Homo sapiens: one gene and its partners. The protein of the gene in region 6 interacts with the protein of the main gene of each other region in a biochemical or structural test. Each region holds a gene or a part of one and is shown on either strand. Other genes may lie near its edges. The genes, in order: LIMK1, ABI3, TGFBR1, HACE1, ARPC1B, PAK1 and TGFBR2.

Evidence for each region.
Region 1: the proteins of PAK1 (region 6) and LIMK1 form a complex in vitro, tested with the Homo sapiens proteins (one study listed by BioGRID and IntAct).
Region 2: the proteins of PAK1 (region 6) and ABI3 form a complex in vitro, tested with the Homo sapiens proteins (one study listed by BioGRID).
Region 3: the proteins of PAK1 (region 6) and TGFBR1 form a complex in vitro, tested with the Homo sapiens proteins (one study listed by BioGRID).
Region 4: of the proteins of PAK1 (region 6) and HACE1, one has a biochemical effect on the other in vitro, tested with the Homo sapiens proteins (one study listed by BioGRID).
Region 5: the proteins of PAK1 (region 6) and ARPC1B form a complex in vitro, tested with the Homo sapiens proteins (one study listed by BioGRID).
Region 7: the proteins of PAK1 (region 6) and TGFBR2 form a complex in vitro, tested with the Homo sapiens proteins (one study listed by BioGRID).

The regions. Positions count from the first base shown.
Region 1 is NC_000007.14:74,100,804-74,104,303, reverse strand, and holds part of LIMK1 (LIM domain kinase 1), read right to left. Parts: intron 1-3,500. UniProt on the Homo sapiens protein: Serine/threonine-protein kinase that plays an essential role in the regulation of actin filament dynamics. Acts downstream of several Rho family GTPase signal transduction pathways.
Region 2 is NC_000017.11:49,220,707-49,223,725, reverse strand, and holds the end of ABI3 (ABI gene family member 3), read right to left. Parts: intron 1,657-3,019; coding exon of another isoform or gene 1,636-1,656; coding exon 1,501-1,635; intron 1,175-1,500; coding exon 1,011-1,174; 3' UTR 501-1,010; downstream 1-500. UniProt on the Homo sapiens protein: May inhibit tumor metastasis. In vitro, reduces cell motility.
Region 3 is NC_000009.12:99,150,113-99,152,402, reverse strand, and holds part of TGFBR1 (TGF-beta receptor type-1 isoform 1 precursor), read right to left. Parts: 3' UTR 1-2,290. UniProt on the Homo sapiens protein: Transmembrane serine/threonine kinase forming with the TGF-beta type II serine/threonine kinase receptor, TGFBR2, the non-promiscuous receptor for the TGF-beta cytokines TGFB1, TGFB2 and TGFB3.
Region 4 is NC_000006.12:104,783,420-104,786,919, forward strand, and holds part of HACE1 (E3 ubiquitin-protein ligase HACE1), read right to left. Parts: intron 1,901-3,500; coding exon 1,566-1,900; intron 1,067-1,565; coding exon 998-1,066; intron 755-997; coding exon 667-754; intron 1-666. UniProt on the Homo sapiens protein: E3 ubiquitin-protein ligase involved in Golgi membrane fusion and regulation of small GTPases. Acts as a regulator of Golgi membrane dynamics during the cell cycle: recruited to Golgi membrane by Rab proteins and regulates postmitotic Golgi membrane fusion.
Region 5 is NC_000007.14:99,377,730-99,381,229, reverse strand, and holds part of ARPC1B (actin-related protein 2/3 complex subunit 1B), read right to left. Parts: intron 1-3,500. UniProt on the Homo sapiens protein: Component of the Arp2/3 complex, a multiprotein complex that mediates actin polymerization upon stimulation by nucleation-promoting factor (NPF).
Region 6 is NC_000011.10:77,355,595-77,359,094, reverse strand, and holds part of PAK1 (serine/threonine-protein kinase PAK 1), read left to right. Parts: intron 1-77; coding exon 78-197; intron 198-3,252; coding exon 3,253-3,427; intron 3,428-3,500. UniProt on the Homo sapiens protein: Protein kinase involved in intracellular signaling pathways downstream of integrins and receptor-type kinases that plays an important role in cytoskeleton dynamics, in cell adhesion, migration, proliferation, apoptosis, mitosis, and in vesicle-mediated transport processes.
Region 7 is NC_000003.12:30,648,101-30,651,600, reverse strand, and holds part of TGFBR2 (TGF-beta receptor type-2 isoform B precursor), read right to left. Parts: intron 1,332-3,500; coding exon 1,141-1,331; intron 1-1,140. UniProt on the Homo sapiens protein: Transmembrane serine/threonine kinase forming with the TGF-beta type I serine/threonine kinase receptor, TGFBR1, the non-promiscuous receptor for the TGF-beta cytokines TGFB1, TGFB2 and TGFB3.

The DNA of each region.
Region 1 (3,500 bases), on a different chromosome or scaffold from region 6:
CCCTAGGTCCTGGAGATGGAAAAGGGGATGGGGGTAAGGCAGAGAGGAGACTGAGAACTTTAAGAAAAACAGGGCCAGGTGTGGTGGCTCATGCCTGGAATCCCAGCACTTTGGGAGGCCAAGGTGGGAGGATTGCTTGAGACTAGGGGTTTGAGACCAGCCTGGGCAGCATAGCAAGACCCCATCTCTATGACATTTTTTACAGAAAATTAGCTGAGCATGGTGGCACACTCCTGTAATCCCAGCTATTTGGGAGGCTGAGGTGGGAAGATCACTTGAGGTCAGGAGTTCGAGACCAGCCTGAGCAAAATAGTGAGACCTCACCATTACAAAAAATAAAAAATTAGCCAGGCATGGTGGTGCTGCCTGTAGTCCCAGCTACTCGAGAGGCTGAGGCAGGAGGATCGCTTGAGCCCATGAGGTCGAGGCTGCAGTGAGCTATGATCATGTCACTGCACTCCAGCCTGGGCAACAGAGTGAGACCCTATCTCAAAAAAACAACCAAGCAAACAAAAAGACTATTCTCGTATGGGGGAGAAGCTCTTCCTTACAGTAACAAATGCAGAAGGAAGAACAGAGTTAGAAATTCAGCATTTGGTAGCCACCCTAGTAATAATCGCTACAGGCAAGAATCATCAATAGATGCTCAAATCATTTGGGGAAGGGTTTTTGGGAACAGGATATTTACAGACTCAAATCTCACAAATGGTTTATTGATGACAAAGGGAAAAAAATCCTTACAGTACAGAAAAAACAAGTAATCAAAGTGAACATCCTCAGCAAAGGGCACACTGACATCATATGTCTCCTGGCAAGATCCACTCGGAAGGACAGAGGATCACTTATGCAGTATCAGGCCAAACCTGCAGAGCCTGTCTCCCTAAGAGGAAACATCAGTCAAACCCAAATGCGAGGGCAGGTACGATGGCTCACGCCTGTAATCCCAGCACTTTGGGAAGCTGAGGCGGGAGGATCACTTGAGCCTAGGAGTCTGAGACCAGCCTGGGCAACACAGTGAGACCCTGTCTCTTTTTAAAAAAAAAAAAAAAAAAAAGGAAAAACATTTTACTTTAATGACTGGCCTGTACACTTCAAAAATGTCAAGATCATGAAGGGCAATGAAAGGCTGAGGAAATGGCCAGACGCAGTGGCTCATGCCTGTAAACCCAGCATTTTGGGAGGCTGAGGTGGGTGGATCATTTGAGGTCAGGAGTTCAAGACCAGCCAGGGCAACATGGTAAAACCCCGTCTCTAATAAAAATACAAAAATTAGGCATGCATAATGGTGCACGCCTGTAATCTCAGCTACTTAGGAGGCTGAGGCAGGAGAATCACTTAAGCCCAAAGGCGGAGGTTGCAATAAGCCAAGATTGCGCCATTGCGCTCCAACCTGGGCAACAAGAGCAAAATTCCGTCTCAAAAAAAAAAAAAAAAAAGATACTGATGACACATGACGATTAAATGCAATGTTGATCATGGACTGGACTGTGGATGAGGGGGAGATTGCTATAAAGGACAGCTCAGTAGTTCAGTATAGAGACAATAGGCAAAATTTGAATATGGTCTGTGTATTAGATAATGGTATCAATGTTACATTTCCAAAATGTGATCACTGAACTATAAGATACAATTGATAATTACATAACAGAATGCCTAGCCAGGCGTGGTGGCCCGTGCCTGTAGTCCCAGCTACTTGGGAGGCAGAGGTGGGAGGATCACTTGAGCCTGGGAGGTTGAGGCTGCAGTGAGCTGTGATCGCATCACTGCACTCCAGCCTCAATGACAGTGATACCCTGTCTCCAAAAAAAAAAAAAAAAAAGAGAAGGTCCTTCTTTTGAGAATATCTAGCATAATTGTGGGGGAGTCAATGATCCCTGCAACTTACTCCCAAACGATCAATAAATAACAACATGTACATGTATGTACAAATATAAACAAGTCACTAAACATGTATATGTATCTGTATCCATATATGTATATATAGAGAGACACACATATAACTCCCAAATATGGCAGTTACGAATTGGTGAACCTTGGTGAAGGGTGTGTATGTATTCAATGGACTTATTATTTTAGCAAATTTTCTATAAATCTGCAAAATGCGAAGATGAAAAGTTGAAAAAAACCAAAGAAAATATTTTCATTGATACAGGCTTTGCATGCATATAACCTTAAAAATAAGCCAGGCATAGTGGCTCACGCTTGTAATCCTAGCACTTTGGGAAGCCAATGTGGGAGGATTGCTTGAGCCCAGGAGTTCAAGACTAGCCTGGGCGACACAGCAAGACTCAGTCTCTACAAAAAATTAAAAAATTAGCTGGGTGTGGTGGTGTGTGCCTGTAGTCTCACTACTCAGGAGGCCGAGGTGAGTGGATTGCTTGAGCACAGGCATCTGAGGCTATAGTGAGCTATGATTGTGCCACTGCACTCCAGCCTGTATGACAGAGCAAGACCCTGTCTCAAAAAAAAATTGTGTGTCTATATATATATATATATATATATGACATACATATGTAAATTCCTTAGAATCTCACATCCTCTCCCTTGGTTTGCTAAAGCAGCAGGTGGCCTGGATAAATTAGACCTTCCTTAAAACGCTGCTATACACAAAATGAAAAGCGGTCAACTAAAACCAGTTTAAAACAAATAAGTAAATCTTTGGCAAGTTGGGCTCTTTCTGGGAAGGGTGTGGCTCTTTGCAGAACTGGGATGTTCCAGATGTTGGCTGGGCGAATGCTTACCCAGTGAGGCAGACAGGGAGGAGACGTCATTAACTGTCTTCTTCATTTTTATTTTAGAGATAGGGTCTCGCTCTGTCGCCCAAGCTGGAATGCATGGTGTCATCATAGCTTGCTGCAGCCTCCACCTCCTGGGCTCAAGCAATCCTCTCACCTCAGCCCTCCGAAGTGGCTGAGATAACAGGCATGAGCCGCTGCACCCAGCTGACTGTCTTCATTTCTAAAATTCTGCCTGGATTTCAGGGACCAGCTGCAGCCTCTGACTCTGTGGGGACCTCCCTTGGCCCTCTGGTAAGAGCCGTTGGTCTGGGAGTTTCCTCATCTCTTTCAAGCAGCTGTCTGCTCATCATGTATGTAAAGCAGCTGCTGGCTTGGCTGATGTCAAGGGATGGAGACACACAGTCAAGCCCAGTATAATTTTCTGTCCCCAGGGCCACCTTCACATCTCAACAGTGCCTATGCAGTGCCAGGCACCTGCCAGGTGTACAAGAAACATTCACTGCGTCAAATGAAAGCTAGCACTTGGTAGGGCCGGGCGTGGTGGCTCATGCCTGTAATCGCAGCACTTTGGGAGGCCGAGACGGGCGGATCACGAGGTCAGGAGATCGAGACCATCCTGCCTAATATGGTGAAACCCTGTCTCTACTAAATATAAAAAAAAAATTAGCCGGGCATGGTGGCAGGTGCCTGTAGTCCCAGCTACTCGGGAGGCTGAGGCAGGAGAATGGCGTGAACCCAGGAGGCGGGGCTTGCAGTGAGCCG
Region 2 (3,019 bases), on a different chromosome or scaffold from region 6:
ACTATTTCTGTGCTGTCCACACTCTCTTGCCTCCCGACCCCCGCACTCCCTTCTAGCACCCCCAAAGGAAAAGCCAGAGGAACAATCGCCTCCTGGTGGTGGTACGAGGTAGCGCACCGTCCGGCTCGGGTCCGGACAGCCAGTAACCTCGCAGAGAGTGACGGTGTCTCCTTGCATCCCAGCCTCGTCTATGCAGCAAGAGACCAGGGACTTCACCAAAGTCACCCTCGCGGGCTGGGCCTTCCACGCATCCCCCCCACCCCCCATGGAACAGAAAGCCATGTTTTTAAGCAGAACCAGCGAAACCCAAGCCCCTCCTTCCTCTGGTGTTTTACAACTATAAAGGAGGTGAAGGGGGAAGAAATGACTGAGATCTCTCTCGCGACAGTCTCAGAGTTGACAGTGAGGTGCTCTCGGAGAGCCCCGCTTAAGTCATGGAGATCGTTCCCACTCTTGGGCAAGTGCCCAGCCACATATGAACACACCACACACACAGCAAGCAATGGGCAAAAGAACAAGTTGCAGTCAATGGCTGCAGAGGGGTGTCTGGGGTCCAATGTGGGCTGCACTTTGTGGGTACTGAGGAAATGGGAAGATGCTGCTTCTAGGTCAGCTGGTGGGTTGGAGGTTGGGGGCTGTAATTAGCAGCAGCCTTAGAACTGGGATGCCTTTCAATCCCTCCTGGCCCCTTATCTCTGTGGGGCAGTCACAGGACATCATCTGTTTTATTCAAAGTTGGGACTTGCAGCAGGAGACCCTGTCCTGCATGGAGTAGGGGTCCTCTGTTGACAAACTTCTTGGTTTCCAGCTCTTCCCCATCTGCAGCAGGCCTCTGGATAAATTCTCTCTCCCCAGGACCCCTTCTCCCTCCGATGGGAGGAAGGACAGAACACAGCTCACAGCCCAAGAGGTGGGCAGACCCAGTCCAGCTGTGACTGGAGCTGGTTTTGGCTTGGGGCTCATGAAACCCACTCAGTGCAGACATCAGCTGCCCAGAGAGCCCTGGGCTGTCAGCAGCTGGGCTCCACATAGTTCCCAGGGAAGAATCCAGTCCCCTCTGAGCTGACGCCCTCGCACCAGCCATCGGAGTAGCGGCGAGTGACACAGATGACAGTGCCCTCAGAGAAGGAGAGCTCATTGTCCTTCTGGCTGGTGTATGGGTACAGTGTCACCACTGCAGGGCAAGAGAAGAGGGTGCCGTGAGATAATGCCTCTTGCCCTCTCCCCCTCACCCCCCACCACCATGGGGATGCACGGTCTCAAGTACTAGACTCTAGGGGCCATCTTGGGGGCCTTCTTGCAAGCCTTCAGGACCCCTCCCCAGCTTAGTTAATATTTAATACCAGGCCAGCTGCCCTCTCCCCAGTTCTGTCAGTTCGTCAGAAAAATTGTGTGGGGGGCCCGGGGGATAGATTCACACCTTTGCAGAGGGAGGAGAATGGGGATCAGGGCAACAGAGGAAGTGGGATCCGGTGCCCCTCAGTCCCAGAAGTCAGGTACCTTTCTCCAAGTATGAGGCAGGCACCCAGCTGGGCTCATCAGGCCCAAATCCTGGTGGGGGTGGAGGCAGCCCCAATTCATCTCCATCCAGGGGTGGAGGAGGAGGCAGGTCCAGTGGCAGGGGCAGCTCTTCGTCTTGGGGGAAAAGCAGAAAGGCTGTAAGTGTGGCACAGGAAGCTCCTTCAGTGTGTCAGGGAACTGCTCAAGAGCTGGACCCCAGAATCCACCCATCTCAGCGAGGCACGTTGGGAGGCCAAGGCGGGCAGATCACCTGAGGCCAGGAGTTCGAGACCAGCCTGGCCAACATGGTGAAACCCTGTCTCTACTAAAAATACAAAAATTAGCCGGGCATGGTGGCACACGCCTGTAATTCCAGCTACTCGGGAGACTGAGGCAGGAGAATGGCTTAACCCAGGAGGTGGAGGTTGCAGTGAGCTGAGATCTTGCCAACACACTCCATCCAGCCTGGATGACAGAGTGAGACTCCATCTCAAAAGAAAAAAAGAATGCACCCATTTCATGCAATCTTCCTCCAGCCCTCTCCTGTCCTGGTCTTCCCACAGTGCTGCTAGCACATAGTTAAGTGCTCAGTAAACCCTGAAAGATCCAGCAGTAGAGGACGGTCAGACTCTGCCTCTTATTAGCTGGGTGGCTCTTGGGCAAGTCACTGAACCTCAGCGTCAGTGGCTTCATCTGTTAACGGAGAGTGGTAAAGACCCTCTCAGGATTAAGTTTATTTTGTTTTATTTTTTTTTGAGACCGAGTCTCGCTGTGTCGCCCAGGCTGGATTGCAGTGGCACGATCTCGGCTCACTGCAAGCCCCACCTCCCGGGTTCACGCCATTCTCCTGCCTCAGCCTCCCGAGTAGCTGGGACTACAGGCGCCCGCCACCACGCCCGGCTAATTTTTTTGTATTTTTAGTAGAGACAGGGTTTCACCATGTTAGCCAGGATGGTCTCGATCTCCTGACCTCGTGATCCGCCCACCTCAGCCTCCCAAAGTGCTGGGATTACAGGCGTGAGCCACCACACCCGGCCTTTATTTTATTTTTTTGAGAGGGAATCTCCCTCTGTCACCCAGGCTGGAGTGCAGTGTGGTGATCTCGGCTCACTGCAGCCTCTGCCTCCTGGGTTCAAGTGATCCTCCTGCCTCAGCCTCCTGAGTAGCTGGAATTACAGGCACGCACCACCACGCCAGGCTAATTTTTGTATTTTTAGTCATGTTGGCCAGGTTGGTCTCAAACTCCTGACCTCAAGTGATCCGCCCTCCACAGCCCCCCAAAGTGCCGGGATTACGGCCGTGAGCCACCCCGCCTGGCCCTTAGGATTAAGTTTATTATTATTATTATTATTATTATTATTATTATTATTATTATTATTTTGAGATGGAGTTTCGCTCTTGTTGCCCAGGCTGGAGTGCAATGGCGCGATCTCGGCTCACTGCAAACTCCGCCTCCCAGGTTCAAGCGATTCTCCTGCCTCAGCCTCCCGAGTAGCTGGTATTACAGGCTTGCGCCACC
Region 3 (2,290 bases), on a different chromosome or scaffold from region 6:
AATTACAGGCTCAGCTCTTCAGACCTTACCCTGTCTTATAGGCGATACAACTGGCCACTGTTTCTGGCACAACTCCACTGCCACAGGAGCCACCTTGCTGCCATCCCACTCCTCATCCATGGCTGAAGTCAAAGCAGGGGCATCCCAAGCCTCATCTGCTCAATCTCCAAACTTGGAGACCCCTCCCTTCCACCTCTAATGACTGAAGGAAATGGAAGTGGGTCCCACAACTTCCATCAGCCGTTTTACTCTAGGTCTCCAGAGCAGCCTTCAGTCAAACGGCTGTGGGGGAGGCAACGGTCTCTGCGTCAGGGACCAGCAAGCAGGAGAGCAGGTTCCAAGAAACAGCTGGAGACAGAAAGGATGGACCAGGGATGTCTATGCCTCACTAAGTCGTATTTCCCCCATCCCCATTTCTCCTGGCTACTGACAAAATGAATATGGACGCACAATTTACCAGAAGATGTTTTAGCCACGTTGAATCTTGGAAGGTGAGCATCCTAGGATGGGCAGTATAAACAACTGTGTTTTTAAATGACAAAATTATTACTCTAATCAAATTTATCTGCAGTTATCGACAGTAATCATGATCCATCCCACCTTTTAAGTTTCTTTCATTTTCAATATCAGCCAATTGTGGTTTATCAAACCATCCCTAGCCAAAAAAGGAATTAACTGCAGTAATACGTAAAGTCAATTTAGAACTAAACTCCAACTTTAAAAAAATTCCCTGATTCATCAAAAGTACATTTTATCCACTTAGGTAAGAAAAGTATAATTGTAACTCAATCTTTGATTCAATAAAAAATATCTTCAGCAAAAGTGGATAACCTTACATGAAAGTGAGAAATCATGTATTACAACTTTAAATCAGACAACTTTTGGTATATTCTTAAAATTATATAAAAATAGTTTTAGTGATAAAATGCATTGGTCCCCTGGATTTCATAAAGCAGATCTGGTAGGCTTAGAAATGGCCCAAAAACAACAACAAAAAAAAAAAAACAAAAAAAAAACCCCCACAAAAAAAGTACCTGATCACAGAATTAGAGATTATTATTAAACAAGTAATACAACACAACTATAAAAACAAACCTCTCAAACTCATTCATTTGCTTCAATGAAATTATGGTAACTACAGAAAAAAACTCAACTTTGTAGTCAAAATAGTAACCTCTAAGCATTTTTCCCATGATGTTTTTAAACACATGAAATTGACACTAAATTCCTATGTAATATGTCACTCATTCTAAAATTACTTTGGTTTTAAGATCAAATAGTCTTTCAAATTTATTCTACGTATAAGAGATAAGACATTATCAGAATGCAACTCATTCAGTGTAAATGGCCACTTTCTCTTCCTGACCAAAATACTGTATGGGTTACTCTGACCCTGTATCGGGGAACTGATAGCACTATAAAGTCGAAGTCTTGCCTCAGAGCTATGATAGTTTTTTCTCCCCTCAGAATAAGATCACAGTGATAAAAGGACTTCGAAAACTGTAAAAGCCCTGCAGAGACTTCATAGCATTGGAAGTAAAAACCAGTTATTATAAGCTAGTTTCAACTTAATGTAAGAAGACCATGACAAGTTTGCTTTCAATATTTGACCAAAGACATCTGTAAATGGAGAAAAACCTATACTCAGAATGTTCTTTAGCTACCACCTCTCCCAAGTAACAAGGGTGCACTGAATGCATTACATAAATTACATGTAAGCAGTTGCAATGTACGCACACATAAGGAAACACTGAATTAAAAGCTGCCTTCCTCAAAGTGTAGTGAGACCTCAAAACCACACTAGCTCTAACCTCAGTTACAAAGACAGAGGATCCACCGAACGTTTACTCCTACATACATAACAAATGTGACTTTCTTGCACATCTGTTATCTATTCAAATTATTAACTACCTTCGCCTTCCTAGAAAAAGGCCTATTATTTAATATTAACCATATTCTAATTTTAAATGTAATTCATGTCTTAAAAAATAAGTCTTTGAACAGATAAAGAAAAAAATGGCTTACAGAATACCACATAACTTTTCACAAGCAGCTAGACAGACTTTCCCTTTTAGAAAAATTAGTCTGTATGCTACAAATATTAAAGTACTATAAGCATCTAGAGTGCCACTTGATTTTTTAAAAGTATACTTAGACAACACAATTAAAATGCAAAAGCTTGATGTGAGAATATTCAAACATGACCATGCTAATAATTTACTAATTAATGCCACTTCATTTCTTTAGTGGCTTAAGCACATTTTGGTAGGAGAAAGGCATTTTCAGAATA
Region 4 (3,500 bases), on a different chromosome or scaffold from region 6:
ATTGAGCATATATCACAGTCATTCCTGACAATTTATTCTGGACAATAGTTCTATGAGGCTGCTGTCATTATCTCCATTTTGTAGATGAAGAAACCAAGGGCTCAAGGATATTAGGAAACGTGCCCAAAGTTCACATAGCTGGTAAGGAGCAAAACAAGCTTTCCTCCAGCTAGCTTCATGTAACATGAGATGTATGGAATGAACAGGTACACATCTGGTAGGGGAAAGGTGGTCAGGTCAAATAAGTTAGGAGGATTAACAAAGCTAAATCACTATTTTTACTGAAGGGCTTCTCAAAGCCTTTTAACATGCTGCCAATGTGATTTATAAATTTCCAAAGGGCATATGTTATGTAATTTCCCAAATGTATTTGGGGGCTAAAATCCTTTTCAAAAGGACAATCAGCCTTATAGAACTAAAGAGTTTCATTAAGCTCCTTTCAGGAAATGTGGCAATGTGTTCTGTTGTTTTTGTACAGACCTCTGTACATAGTAGGCACTCAGTACATATTTCTTGAAGAAAACTTACTCCTCATATTAAAGTAACATGCAATCATTCCTCTTACAACAGAATGTCTGAAGTGTAATAATTATTCCACTAAACAGTATTAGAATTTTAGAAATTAATTTCATTAGATAGAATAAAAAGATGAAGAAAAATTTCTACCTGTGCTTTTATGATATGCATGAATCTTGACATCAACTCAGGACATTCAAGGAGAAAGTGAAAGTGGTCAAATATAATTTTGGGATTTCTAAAAGAAAAATATTTTGTTTAAATGGACAGGAAGAATGAGTAGCATTAAGTGAAATGCAAATTCAGATACACTGACACTGAAACAGAAGAAAAACACATAATAATCCATATCTATTAAAGTTTCATTTGTTATTGAGCATATTTTGAATAGTACGAGAAATAGTATTTTTTCTGTTTAGATGAAACTGTAAGTAAAGAGAGGAAAGGCTAGCAGGGTACTCCACAAACCCAGAAAGCTTACCTATTAACAAAGCATTTTAAAACTTCATCATGTTTGCAGACAAATTCAATGAAACGAGGTGAAGTCATTCTGTGGGGGGAAAACATCAATCAGAATACACAGGCAAAAGTTTGTGATATAATATAGCGAACTTGATAAATATATACTGAACTGGACTGGCTTCTAAACCAAAAAAAAAAGAATTTGGTTTTGAATCTTCTTTGTAAGTTTAGGAAACTGAAGTATGCCTAGCCAATTTGTAAAATGATTCTAACTTCTCATCAGCAGACGATATCAACAAGTGACTTTTTAAAAATCTTGAAATTTGGTGCATTTCTGCTCTACACATTTCAAATACATAATTAAGAGATCCTATACAAGGTGACATTCACCATTCTACAAAGTAATAATATATACTGCTTAATATTTAAATATTCCCTACTAGATCTAGATTAGTATGAGTATCTTAAAACAAGGAGAAAACTTTAAATCAACAAATTATTATTTGTTGTTTTTGAAATTACAAAAGTATCACTGCTTTTCATCATCTATCAGAGAAAAAAAAAATAATAAGCCAAAACTTTCTTACCCCGGAGGCATCTGACAAGAACAGCACATGTAAAAAGCTTGAATGACAGCACTTAGCCGGTTAGCTGTCATAGAAATAACATCCTGACAATCTGCACTGGCTTCCTGTCTCCCTGCAAGAGCATCTGGTTTAGATTCCCTTGTGCCAGTGGACAGATTTTCATAGCTCCCAGGTCCTGGAGGTTCAAATGGAGGAATGGAAGCAGCATCTTGATCTTGGCCTTTTTGTTTCAGTAAAATAGAAGTGATCTCTGTTGAGTCTCTTTTGTTTTTCATCAATTCTGTGGCTATTAAAACTAGCCATTCATCTAACGAGTGCCAAAGCAATTCCAGAGGCTGAGAGAAACAAAAGTGTTTTTTAAACATCATTCTTAAACTACAGGATTAAAAAAAAAAAAACAAAACACAACTAGACAAATATTATAGAAGAGAAAATTTACTCTAGTCATTTCTATCTTCCCAAGTTAACGTGATAGTAATGCCTAAAGGTAAGTAATAAAATTATACAAATGCTACATAAATGACAATTTCTTCATTTATGGCAATAATTTAATTTGTATGTATGTATTCCTTGTAATAAAAAGGAAAAACTAAATCTAACAAAAAATTCACAATCTTTCTTCTTTTAATTTTCAAATGTTTAGTTTTAAAAGCACACATTACTACTATATATAATCACCCTTAACATTTACTGTATTAATATGATCAATGTCAACCACTTTCAATTAAACAAATAAGATTTTTTCAGTTAAAAAATGAGAACCCCTAAGTATAATCACTCAACATTTTCTGTATTAATATGATCAATGTCAACAACTTTCAATTAAACAAATGTCTTTTTTCAATTAAAAAATGAGAATCCCTAAAGAACCTAATGAACAGCTTTTTTACTGTGCTCCTTTCATTACATATAATTCCTAGAATTTGGATAATTTTTGACAAGAAATTACAAAATGTGGCATATTTATGTATATACATATACTTACAGACACAATCCATTTCTAATAATTAGTGTTTTTTTAAAACAAGAGATACAATTACCAAACTTCTATTAAAATACTGACTAGCAGGCCGGAGATGGTGGCTCACGCCTGTAATCCCAGCACTTTGGGAGGCCGAGGTGGGTAGATCACTTGAGGTCAGGAATTCGAGATCAGCCTGGCCAACATGGTGAATTGAAATCCCATCTCTACTAAAAATACAAAAAATTAGCCAGACATGGTGGCACACACCTATAATTCCAGCTACTCGGGAGGCTGAGGCAGGACGATCACTTGAACCCAGGAGGCAGAGGTTGCAGTGAGCTAAGATCACACCACTGCACTCCAGCCTGGGTGACAGGGCGAGACTCCATCTCAAAAAAAAAAAAAAAAATACTGAGTAGCAAATTCTTAATTCCAAGTAAAGATTAACACCTTTCTATTAAAAAAAAAAAAGATGAGGAGAGAATAAACTATTTCCTATTATTATTCTAGCTGGGTACACAGGCATGCACTTGTAGTCCCAGTTACTGAGGAGGTTGAAGGGGGAGGATTGCTTGAGTCTCGGAAGTCAAGGCTACAGTGAGCTGTGATCATGTCACTATACTCCAGCCTGGGTGAAAGAGTGAGATACTGTCTCCAAAAAAAAAAAAAAAACAAACAAACAAACAAAAAAAAAAACCTGCTAGGATATTTTTAATCCCAAATAAAGATTAATAGTTTATAAGTGGTACAGTGGTTAAACAATCCCTTCATCCTACACTATTTTAAATATTCTTATTGAGAATGATTAGCTATCCTTCTGCAAATAAATATAAAAGTTTATCTCACTTTTTGAATCTGACATGATTACAGAATGCTACAAACTACACCATGTGCTACAGAAAGACTCACCTTTAAAATATTTCAAGGAAAGAAATAATCTTTCTTTTAAAGACCGCCATGGAAGGAGATTA
Region 5 (3,500 bases), on a different chromosome or scaffold from region 6:
ACCCAGAACAAGCACCCGGCACCCACTGGGGCTGCCTCTGCAGCCTCTCTCTCCTTATAAGGCCTCTTTGTGTAAGGTGAGGGCCCCGGAAGCACCATCTCAGCGCCCTCAGCCATGTCAGCAGGTCTGATGGGGGTTTCCCTGAGCGTTTCCTGTGTTCCCAGGCTGGGACATCACCACCCACATCTGATGCCAGCACTGTGCAGAGAGAAGCTCAAGGCCTGTGACTGATTCACGGTGCTCATCTACACCCCGACAACCCCCATGGTCCAAGGTCACCAGCAGGGCAGGGGCAGGGTGAAGGCCAGAAGCCCACTTTCACACTCCACCCAGGCTCTGGTTGGCCCCAGGACTCCAGCTGAGGCCAATTTTTCCCTCCCTTTCAGCCCCAGGAGGCCCAGACTGAAGGAACCTCCGGGGATGAGGGTGGGAGAGCCCAGACTCAGAACCCTGGGTTGATGCACAGACTCTGACATCCCAGCATCAGTGGTCACATTCTTGCTGTGTGCCCAGCCACATCTCTGCCCTGGCTGTCAAGACGGAGTGGCTGGCTCTGCTGAAGACAGCAACCCCCACGTGTGCCAGTGGGCAAGGGCAACCGAGAGGACTTGAAGAGCCCTGACCACTGTTTCTAGGACCTAGACATACTCAAGGGGCAGAGGAGGGGCTGGAAAAGATGGCCACAGTGGTACACTAGTGACTGGCAGAGGAGGGAGGTTGAGACCACACCTATCAGCCAATCACACTTCAGCATGAATTAGCAGAAATACTTCCTAGTCTGTTGAACAAACCCCTTAAATGGGGCAAAGAAGTGTTAAGGGGGCGAGAGACAGGAAGACTCATTTCCCTTTTTCCATAACTTCTGCAAAGCAGCTGAAACCCAAAGCGCCTCTGCGATAACTCCCCAACCCCCACATCTTACCAGTGAGGAAGTGGGAGAGCAAAAAGGGAGTGGCTTCTCTCAGCCAATGCTGCCACAGGGCTCCAGTCTCCTGCCTCAGGGATTCTAGCCGGGGACACTCCAACTTCATCATCCTCAGGAAAACCTCTCACCTACCAAGCCTGCGTGAGCCAGCGTGTGCTCACCCCCGCCTGCCAATTACCCTGCTCTGGATGTCTCAGGAGAAAAATACGAGGGCTGCTTCACCCACCAGTGTTGACAGCATAAGGTCTCAGTGATGGCTCCTGGGGGAGGGATCCAGGACACCAACCCACTATCACTGTGGCCCTGTGAGCCAGCACTGTGGGCCTGTTTGATGTTAAGAAACCAGAGAGAGGAGGGGATAGCCGGGCACAGTGGCTCACGCCTGTAATCCCAGCACTTTCGGAGGCCGAGGTGGGTGGATCACTTGAGGTCAGGAGTTTGAGACCATCCTGGCCAACATGGCAAAACCCCGTCTCCACTTGGAAAAAAAAAAAAAAAATTAGCCAGGCATGGTGGTGCCAGGCAAAGAAAGCCTCAGGCTGCCCAGCGGCGGGGTGGTGGTGGTGAGGCACTCTAAAGTCCTGGGCCTTGATACTCTCTCCCTTACTGTGCTGGGTTTACATTCTAGCTGTCTTCATACTGGCTGGGTGCCCTCAGCCAATATTTCCCTCCCATCTTAATCCAGATGAGGCTGGGGCTAGACTAGGCACAGGCTGCGGGACCCTTCTTGCCTGGCTTCCTTAGGTTTCCCTGAATCCAGAGGTTTGGCTGTATCAGAGGCTAAACCAAGGAGGAGTTGCCTGGAGGAAAGATCTCAGCATTACAGGCGCTCTGGGAAGTCCCCACCCAGCTCAGGCAGTTCTTGGATAGAGCAGCCAGCAGGCTAATTTGCACCGTGCTAAGCGGTTACTCAACTTCCTATGCTGGGTCAGAGCCCTTCCTACCCCTATCCTTCCCTCTCCAGCTCTGCTCTTGAAGTCTTACCAACCACGCAGAGTGAAGTCAAGAAACACACATGAAAACAATCGTAAGGTACCATTAAAGCACCGGTTAGTCATCCAAACAAAACAAAAACACACAAAATTCAATGCTAGCAGAGCTGTGGAGAAATTGTCATTTGTTGCTAATTGGTTTAATTCTTCTGAAGGGCACTCAATTCAACAAGTGGGTGGGACCAAATATTAATAGAACAGAATAACACTAACAGGAACTTGAAAATTAGCATTCTGGCCAGGTGTGGTGGCTCACGCCTATACTCCCAGCACTTTGGGAGGCCGAGGTGGGTGGATCACGAGGTCAGGAGATCGAGACCATCCTGGCTAAAACGGTGAAACCCCGTCTCTACTAAAAATACAAAAAATTAAGCCGGGCGTGGTGGCGGGCGCCTGTAGTCCCAGCTACTCGGGAGGCTGAGGCAAGAGAATGGCGTGAACCCGGAAGGCGGAGCTTGCAGTGAGCCGAGATTGCGCCACTGCACTCCAGCCTGGAGGACAGAGCAAGACTCCATCTCAAAAAAAAAAAAAAAAAAAAGAAAAAGAAAATTAACATTCTTTGGTCACATACACCCATTTGGTCCTAAGAAAACAGCAACACATTTTTCTTTCTTTTTCTTTTTTATTTTTGAGATGTAGTCTCATTCTGTCGCCCAGGCTGGAGTGTAGTGGTGCATTCTCGGCTCACTGCAACCTCCGCCTCCCAGGTTCAAGCAATTCTCCTGTCTCAGCCTCCCCAGTAGGTGGAACTACAGGTGCCCACCACCACGCCCAGCTAATTTTTGTTTTTGTTTTTAGTAGAGATGGGGTTTCACCATGTTGGACAGGCTGGTCTCGAACTCCTGACCTTGTGATCCACCCGCCTCGGCCTCCCAAAGTGCTGGGATTACAGGTGTGAGCCACCACGCCTGGCCCCATTTTTCTTTTTTAAAAGCAAACAGGTGGGGTGCCATGGCTCACGCCTGTAATCCCACCATTTTGGGAGGCCAAGCCAGGTGGATCACTTGAGTCCAGGAGTTCGGAGACCAGCCTGGGCAACATGGCAAAACCCTGTGTCTATAAAAACTACCAAAAAAAAAAAAAAAATTAGCGGGATGTGATGCTGTACGCCTGTAGTCCTGGCTATCTGAGGGGCTGAGGCTGGAGGATTCCTTGAGCTGGGAAGGTGGAGGTTGCAGTGAGCCGAGATCTCGTCACTGTACTCCAGCCTGGGTGACAGAGTGAAACCTCATCTAAAAAATAAAGCAAACATGTTTATAATAGCTGTCTTTATAATGGTGACAGTGTGGAAAAACCCAGGTGACAATATGGAAAGAGTAAATTATGACATTAACATGTTGAGATGCTACGTAATTATTAATATTAGAAAAGACCTATCAACCGACGGGTGCGGTGGCTCACACCTGTAATCCCAGACTTTGGGAGGCGGAGGCAGGTGGATCACCTGAGGTCAGGAGTTTGAGACCAGCCTGCCCAACATGGTAAAACCCTCTCTACTAAAAATACAAAATTTATCTGGGCTTGGTGGTGGGCACTTGTAATCCCAGCTGCTCGGGGGGTCGAGGCAAGAGAATCACTTGAAC
Region 6 (3,500 bases):
TGGGAGGTTTGGTGATCCTGATAGTTAAGTTCCATGGCAGCTGGACCAGATGCATCTTGCTTTTCTTCTTTGCACAGAATGTGAAGGCTGTGTCTGAGACTCCTGCAGTGCCACCAGTTTCAGAAGATGAGGATGATGATGATGATGATGCTACCCCACCACCAGTGATTGCTCCACGCCCAGAGCACACAAAATCTGTGAGTCTTTGGGGACCTGGCCAGTTTTGTGATTTATTAGAGTAAGTGGGGAGAGGGAGGAGTTGGTGCTGATACCTAGAAGTTTAATATTCTGGTAGGCGTCCTTAGATTTTGGAGCTGGTGAAATCACTGAACTACCTTGACTAAAGGTACTTTCTGTATGATTAAAGACAAAAAATCATGTGTTTATTTATCATTGGTTTGCAGATAGTCCCAAAGTGTCCTAGGTAATTGATGTTTATACCAGTCCAGTCTCGGTTCTCCACAGATAGGACAGGAAGATATATAGGATTGATGCTACTTAGTGCAGGACTAACATAAATTATTCCAGTCTCCAGGGAAGCAACAAATTGTCTTGCTACAGATCTTTTCTTCTCTGTTAAATGTGCAGTGTTCAGCCTCTTAGAGCATTATTGATAATATTGAAAGACCCAAGAGAATATATAAATACATTAGTGCTATTAATATGCTGGGCATCAGGAGTGCATTTTGATGCCGGATGTTGGCAGTGATTTCTATTTAACTTCCTTTGAGGTTCCTGCATCTCTGAGAATAGCCATGGTCCCTCTAACCTTGCTTTGAAACATCTAGTCCCTGTGCCTTTTACTTAATTTGGCATCACTGAGCACTGACCTACCATCAGATGATACTCTACTAGTGTTTCTTTGTTTAGGTCTTTTACTAAGATGAGAGCTCCATAATGAAGGAACCATCTAGCACTTCTGTGATCATGAAAGAAAAAAAAAAGGGCTACCTCTGGAATACAGCATTCAGGGAGGTGTTCAAACAGAAATTGGTTGAATGACTATTGGAGATGCTGTGGAGGAAATTCAAAGGAATTATATGACCTATTAGGATGAGAACTTACAAACAGAATCTGTGGAATCATCTCTGTAGGTCACAAAGTTACCTCAAGGGAAAATGCGCTTCAAAATTGGAGAGTCGTTAACACTGATATGGTTTTTTTTGGTTTGTAGACATGTTCATTTAAAACATTTTTTTCCCCACTAAACCATGAACACCTCAAAAAGTAGAGGAAATCCATATGTATGTATTTCTAGTGCTTAACATAGTTCTTGGCACCTGCAGAGGTGGGTAAATATCAGAGGACAGTAAATATTGAATTAATTAATTAATTGATCTTCATAGCATTTCTTTCTAAAAAGGTATTGGTAATTCCTAATTTATAGAAGAAGCAGCTGAGATTTGGAGAGGTGAATTGATCTGCCCAGTCTCTTAGTAAACAAAAGAGCCAGGATTTGAAAGCAGGTAATTAACCCCAACTCCAGGTTGTTTTCCACCATAGCACAGTGGTATTTTTGTGTGTACAAACCTGTGCTAGGAGCCAGAGAAGGAGACTATTAAAGAAGGAAAAGGCAAGGTTTCTGTCTTCAAAGAGATATATCAGGACAGGCAAAAGAGGACAAGGCATGGAAGTACAGGTTTAGGTGCCTGGGATATAGTTTGTCTACAGGTACAAGAATAGAAAATTGAGAAATCATTATGCTAGAGTAGTAATCAGGAAGGAAGCCATTGCCTCTGATCTCAGCGTCTTGGCTTATTGCTGTTCCCACTACTGGAATGTTCTCTCCCATTTCCACCTATTAAAAGCCTGTCCAGTCAAAAGGTAGCATGGTCAAGCAGTCCAAGGTGCAGGATGTAGTTGGCTTTAGTCTCTGTGGAGCCATGGGTTTGAGTCCCACTGTTGCCAATGGCTTTGCATCATCGCAGATAAATGATCATCATAGATAAATGATCCTCTATCTTTGTAGAAACCTATCCGTCCTTCAGGATCCAGTTGCAGGATCCTGTTTGTTTATTTATTCCATCAAATATTTACCTGAATGCTTGCTTTCTTTTAGTAAGTGGTTAGATGGAGGAACTCACGGATGAATGACCCACATTCCCTGTCCTTATACTGTTTATGGACTATGCAAAAGATAATTGTGATATTTTTATGATAAAATCTGTTAAATACCTTGAAGCATCTCCTGGGGAAAGGAAGTATAATTTATGATCACTTCTGAACCTCAGTAGTATATAGCTTGCTTATTTCTTTATAACATGTATCACTTTCTGCCTTGTAGTTATGATTTTCTCACCTCCTTTATAAGAATGAGAGGTTGGGGCAGCATTTTGTACAGGGTGAGGCAACAAATAGATTCTCAGTAAATGTTTGTTATGTAAATGAATGAATAGGACATTTAATATTTTTAAAAGGTAAAATTTGAGTGCTTAATGTCTGCTGGGGATGAGTCTGATTACCTCACATATTAATCAGTTTACTCCTACAGCAACCCCAAAAGATAGTTATCATTATTATCACCATTTTATAGATGAGGAAACTGAAACACAGAGAAGTTAAGTAACCTGCCCAAAGTCATGCAGAAGGTAAGAATAATAAGAGTTGGGATTTAAGTTCAGGCAGTCAGGTTCCAGAGTCCATGTTCTAAATCATCACACTCTACTACCTCTTGATGAAGAACAAAAGTAGTTCCTTCCCTGCAAGGGTTCAGGATGTAAGGAGGGAGTAACTCAATAGAAGTTGGTGTTGTACTAGTAATGCAAAGTGCTATTTGCATTACTACAGGATATGTCTTTTAACTTGGGGAAGCATAAAATATTACAAATGAAGGGGATTCTTACCTAATAGAATTGTCTTCAACTAATTTCTTTTGTTACAGAATATTTCTTTTAGCTTGGGGAATACAGGATATTTCTTTTAGCTTGGGGAAGCATAAAATATTACAGATGAAGGGGATTCTTATCTAATAGAATTGTCTTTAACTAATTTCTTTTGATAGTTGTCTAGCCTCTATTGAATATCTTTAGTGCTGAGACTCTCACTTCTTTTGTTTACAGTGAGAGTAAGGAAGGCCATTTTACCCAGAATGGGTGGGCCTGGGCACAGAGGAGGAGTAATATAGATTTTGACATAAGAGAAAGGATGAGTTTATTGGGGTTTGCTCTGTGGATGTTCTAACCTCACATCTAGGAGAGGTTCCCCTATGCTAACAAAGGCTGGTCTTGCCAAAATTTTGCACTAATAATGCAGGTATACACACGGTCTGTGATTGAACCACTTCCTGTCACTCCAACTCGGGACGTGGCTACATCTCCCATTTCACCTACTGAAAATAACACCACTCCACCAGATGCTTTGACCCGGAATACTGAGAAGCAGAAGAAGAAGCCTAAAATGTCTGATGAGGAGATCTTGGAGAAATTACGTAAGGAATTTGTAGCTTTCTGAACCTTTCTTCGTTTTATGACTGGTCAAGCACAGAGATTTGCTGGTCGTAG
Region 7 (3,500 bases), on a different chromosome or scaffold from region 6:
TAAGATCCATCGTGGGAGATAATATGAAATTCGAGACTAAATTAAAAGATGTACAGTATATCTATGTGTTCTATCTTGTTTAGAAGGAATTGTAAAAGTGGTTGGGTATAAAAAAGTGTTGCAAAATAATATTTATAGTATGATCAGATAGTTGTACTGAAAGATGGATGAGTGGATGGAAGGATGGACAGATGGATGAAAGGAGGGAAAGAGAAAGGAAGACAGGGAGAGATTGGGAGAGAGGATGGAGTGGGAGATAATATGAATGAATGATAGAGACGTGTGTGCATCTAATACATTGTCAATACAGATGATCTGTTGCATTGGGAGTGAGGGGAGGACGAAAATGTACTTTCATTTTTAATTTTCACACACTGTTGGATTGTTTGAAATTTTTGATGACGAGCATATACTACTTTTGTAATTAAAAACCACTGAATTCTCTTCTTATTAAAAATTGAGGGAATAGTGTATGCCTTCCTTTCAAGCTGAGTAAACGCTGAACTTCAAAGATGGAGGCTAGTATCTAATCTACTCTTCTCCTGGCTCTAGGGGTAAACTTTGGCTTATTATTTCCTCTCTGTATTGCAATGTTTCTCTCAAATGGGATCGATGACAAGTACCCTAAAGACAAATCCTGGGACTATGTACAAGAAACAACATCAGTTATAAAGAAAGTCCTCCTCCAAGATTAAACAACCCCATCCAAATCTTTAGAACAATAGTTACCAAATTTTAGCTGCACAGAATTACTGGGAGGGCTTGTTAAAATACAGATAGCTGGGGTTCACCCTCTATGTTTCTCATTTAGTGGGGCCTGAGAATCTGCATTTATAACAGGTTCCCAGGTGATACTGATGCTGGCTGCTCAAGAGGCCGCACTTTGAGAAACACTGCTCTAGGTGAAAGAAACTATTTGTCAAAGACAAATAATAATGTTTGCCCCAGTCAACCATATTTGATGAGAACCAGAACAAACCCTGCTACTCCCCAAGCCCCTCTTTCCACCAGCTGAATGAGCTCCTAATCCACTGTATGCAATCCACCACAGGAGGAATGTGCTCTATGACACTGCAGACCAAGGATACAAAAAATTGGCACAGATCTCAGGTCCCACACCCTTAAGAGAAGAAAACTCACCTTCTGAGAAGATGATGTTGTCATTGCACTCATCAGAGCTACAGGAACACATGAAGAAAGTCTCACCAGGCTTTTTTTTTTCCTTCATAATGCACTTTGGAGAAGCAGCATCTTCCAGAATAAAGTCATGGTAGGGGAGCTTGGGGTCATGGCAAACTGTCTCTAGTGTTATGTTCTCGTCATTCTTTCTCCTAGAGTGAAGAGATTCATTGGAAGCGAGGGGAGAGGGAGAGAGAGAAAGAGAATAAATGAATAATATGGCCTCCAGACAGAAAGGCAATCTGGAATACTTTTCCTTCATGAAGTTGTTCCTAACAACGGCAGCTGGTTCCTGTTCTCCAGCATTCGCAGGCTGTCCTATAGTCTCCTATGCTTTTCTACTCTTTTCTGTTTTTCCTTTGTTTATTCTTGGAACCCATTTGTGATTATAAACATCACCTGGAGCAGACAGCGTTCCACGGGGCAGTCCTGGTGGAGAACTTTACATATTTAAGTCTTAATTAAATCATTAAAGGGGAAGACATGGAAAAAAAGAACATTCCTAGGTACTCAGGATAATTTTAAATCTTCCATCCTGAATGTAATGCAAACCTCACATCACACCCCTAGTTTAAGTGGCAAAATCTGTCCTGTCTAGCTATACTGTTTTCAAAGAGCATGCCTGGGGAAATAGTCACAGTTCCTCTTTTTTTTGTTTGCTGGGCCCCAGAGCATTGCGTGTAAAGGGTATACTCCTTGTCAACAGCTGGTTCTGCTGAGAAAAACGGGAAGAAACATCGCAGATAAAGAACTGCAGTCTTTCCCAAATTACAGAAAGGAGCAATTCAGAAAAAACAAACAAACAAAAAAAACAAATAAATAAAAGAAATGGAAAGGGATGTCAGGGTGTTCTTCATTTACAGTTCAATGAAATATTTTATGCTGTCATAAACTAACTACTTTGACAGTATCACTTCATAGCACATATTTGAAGACTAATTTAGCCCAGGGCTCAGAGAATTTCTCACATAGCATTTTCCTTGGGCCCTAGGAAATGCTCAATTGGCCGTCAGTGTACATTAGATTTTTAAACAACATGATTAATGCCCACTATTATAATTGAACAAAAGAACATTTTGGCTCTCTTGGAAAAGGGTATCACCTCTCTATCTACCTCCCTCTGCTCCCTCATGAACATACTATCTTGGATGACTGTCCAACAAGGCTAGTCTGACATCCACCCTTTCACCTCTGTCCTTTTTAGATGCAAAATACCTGTTGTCTTGAATCGCATTCTCTCTGTCTAGAGAGGGAGCGGAAGGAAGGGCTAATCTGGTCCAGTCAGTTTTGCTAGAGTAATCTTCTATGAAGATTCTGAGTGCACACATGAGCCAATGCATGCATGTACTCACTCACCAATTTTCCCCTAATCCTCCCTGCCCCATGCACAAAGGCTCACTGCTCACAGCAAGGAAAACGGAAGGCAGGCTAGAAGCAAGAAGCAGCTAAGACACAGCTTGCACCTATAAAAGATGCGGGGCCATCCCCATGAGAGAAAGAGCAACTTTGACCAATACCACTTTTTTAGTGCTTAAGTCAAGGACATTAAAGGACAATATGTTGACAAAGGGATAAGGGCAAGGGTATGGGTTAGGACAATCCAGGCAGGAATGGTGCCAGTGTCAACATCCATGCAGCCCAGAGTTGACTCCAGTGGAGGTACATGTGTCTGCTTGTGAAGGGGCTCAAGGGTTCTTAAACTAGAATTCCGAAAGACACAAGAGGAGCAAGGCTTTGCTAAGTTGGTCCCTGCTGTGACAGGAAGAGTGACAAGCAGAATAATTGGTTGAGGGTGGCTATCAGGACACCAAATGAAACTAAATGAAAGTTGGCATGATCATACAACAAATGATGTATAATTTGGAAATCTACCCATCTTTAACCCCAAAGCTACTTGGCAGTCTTCAAATCAGCTGTAGTCATGGAACAAGAACACCTTCCTCCCTGCCCCCACAGTTTTGTGTGTGTGTGTGTGTGTGTGTGTGTGTGTGTGTGTGTGTGTAGGTTGTTTTTGGTTTGGGTAATAAAACGAAGGTATGCTGTGCCCACAGAAAGGCATGGTCTCTTTTCCTTGTGACGCTTATAGAGGCCTAAGAAGGAACTGTGAGCCATGAAAGAAAGCTGCTCTATAATTATTGGGCAGCTCTTCCAGAGCCTCCGGTTTTCTACCTCTTAGCTACTGAGAGAACTAACATCACAGAGAGAAAACAACTGTAATACTTGAGACCTGGTAAAGCCCTTAACTGCTTTCTCCACTCACTCCTGTAACAGCCAGGCACAGCTAACTTTTCAAACTCTTTTTGGATATAGCTGAGCATAGG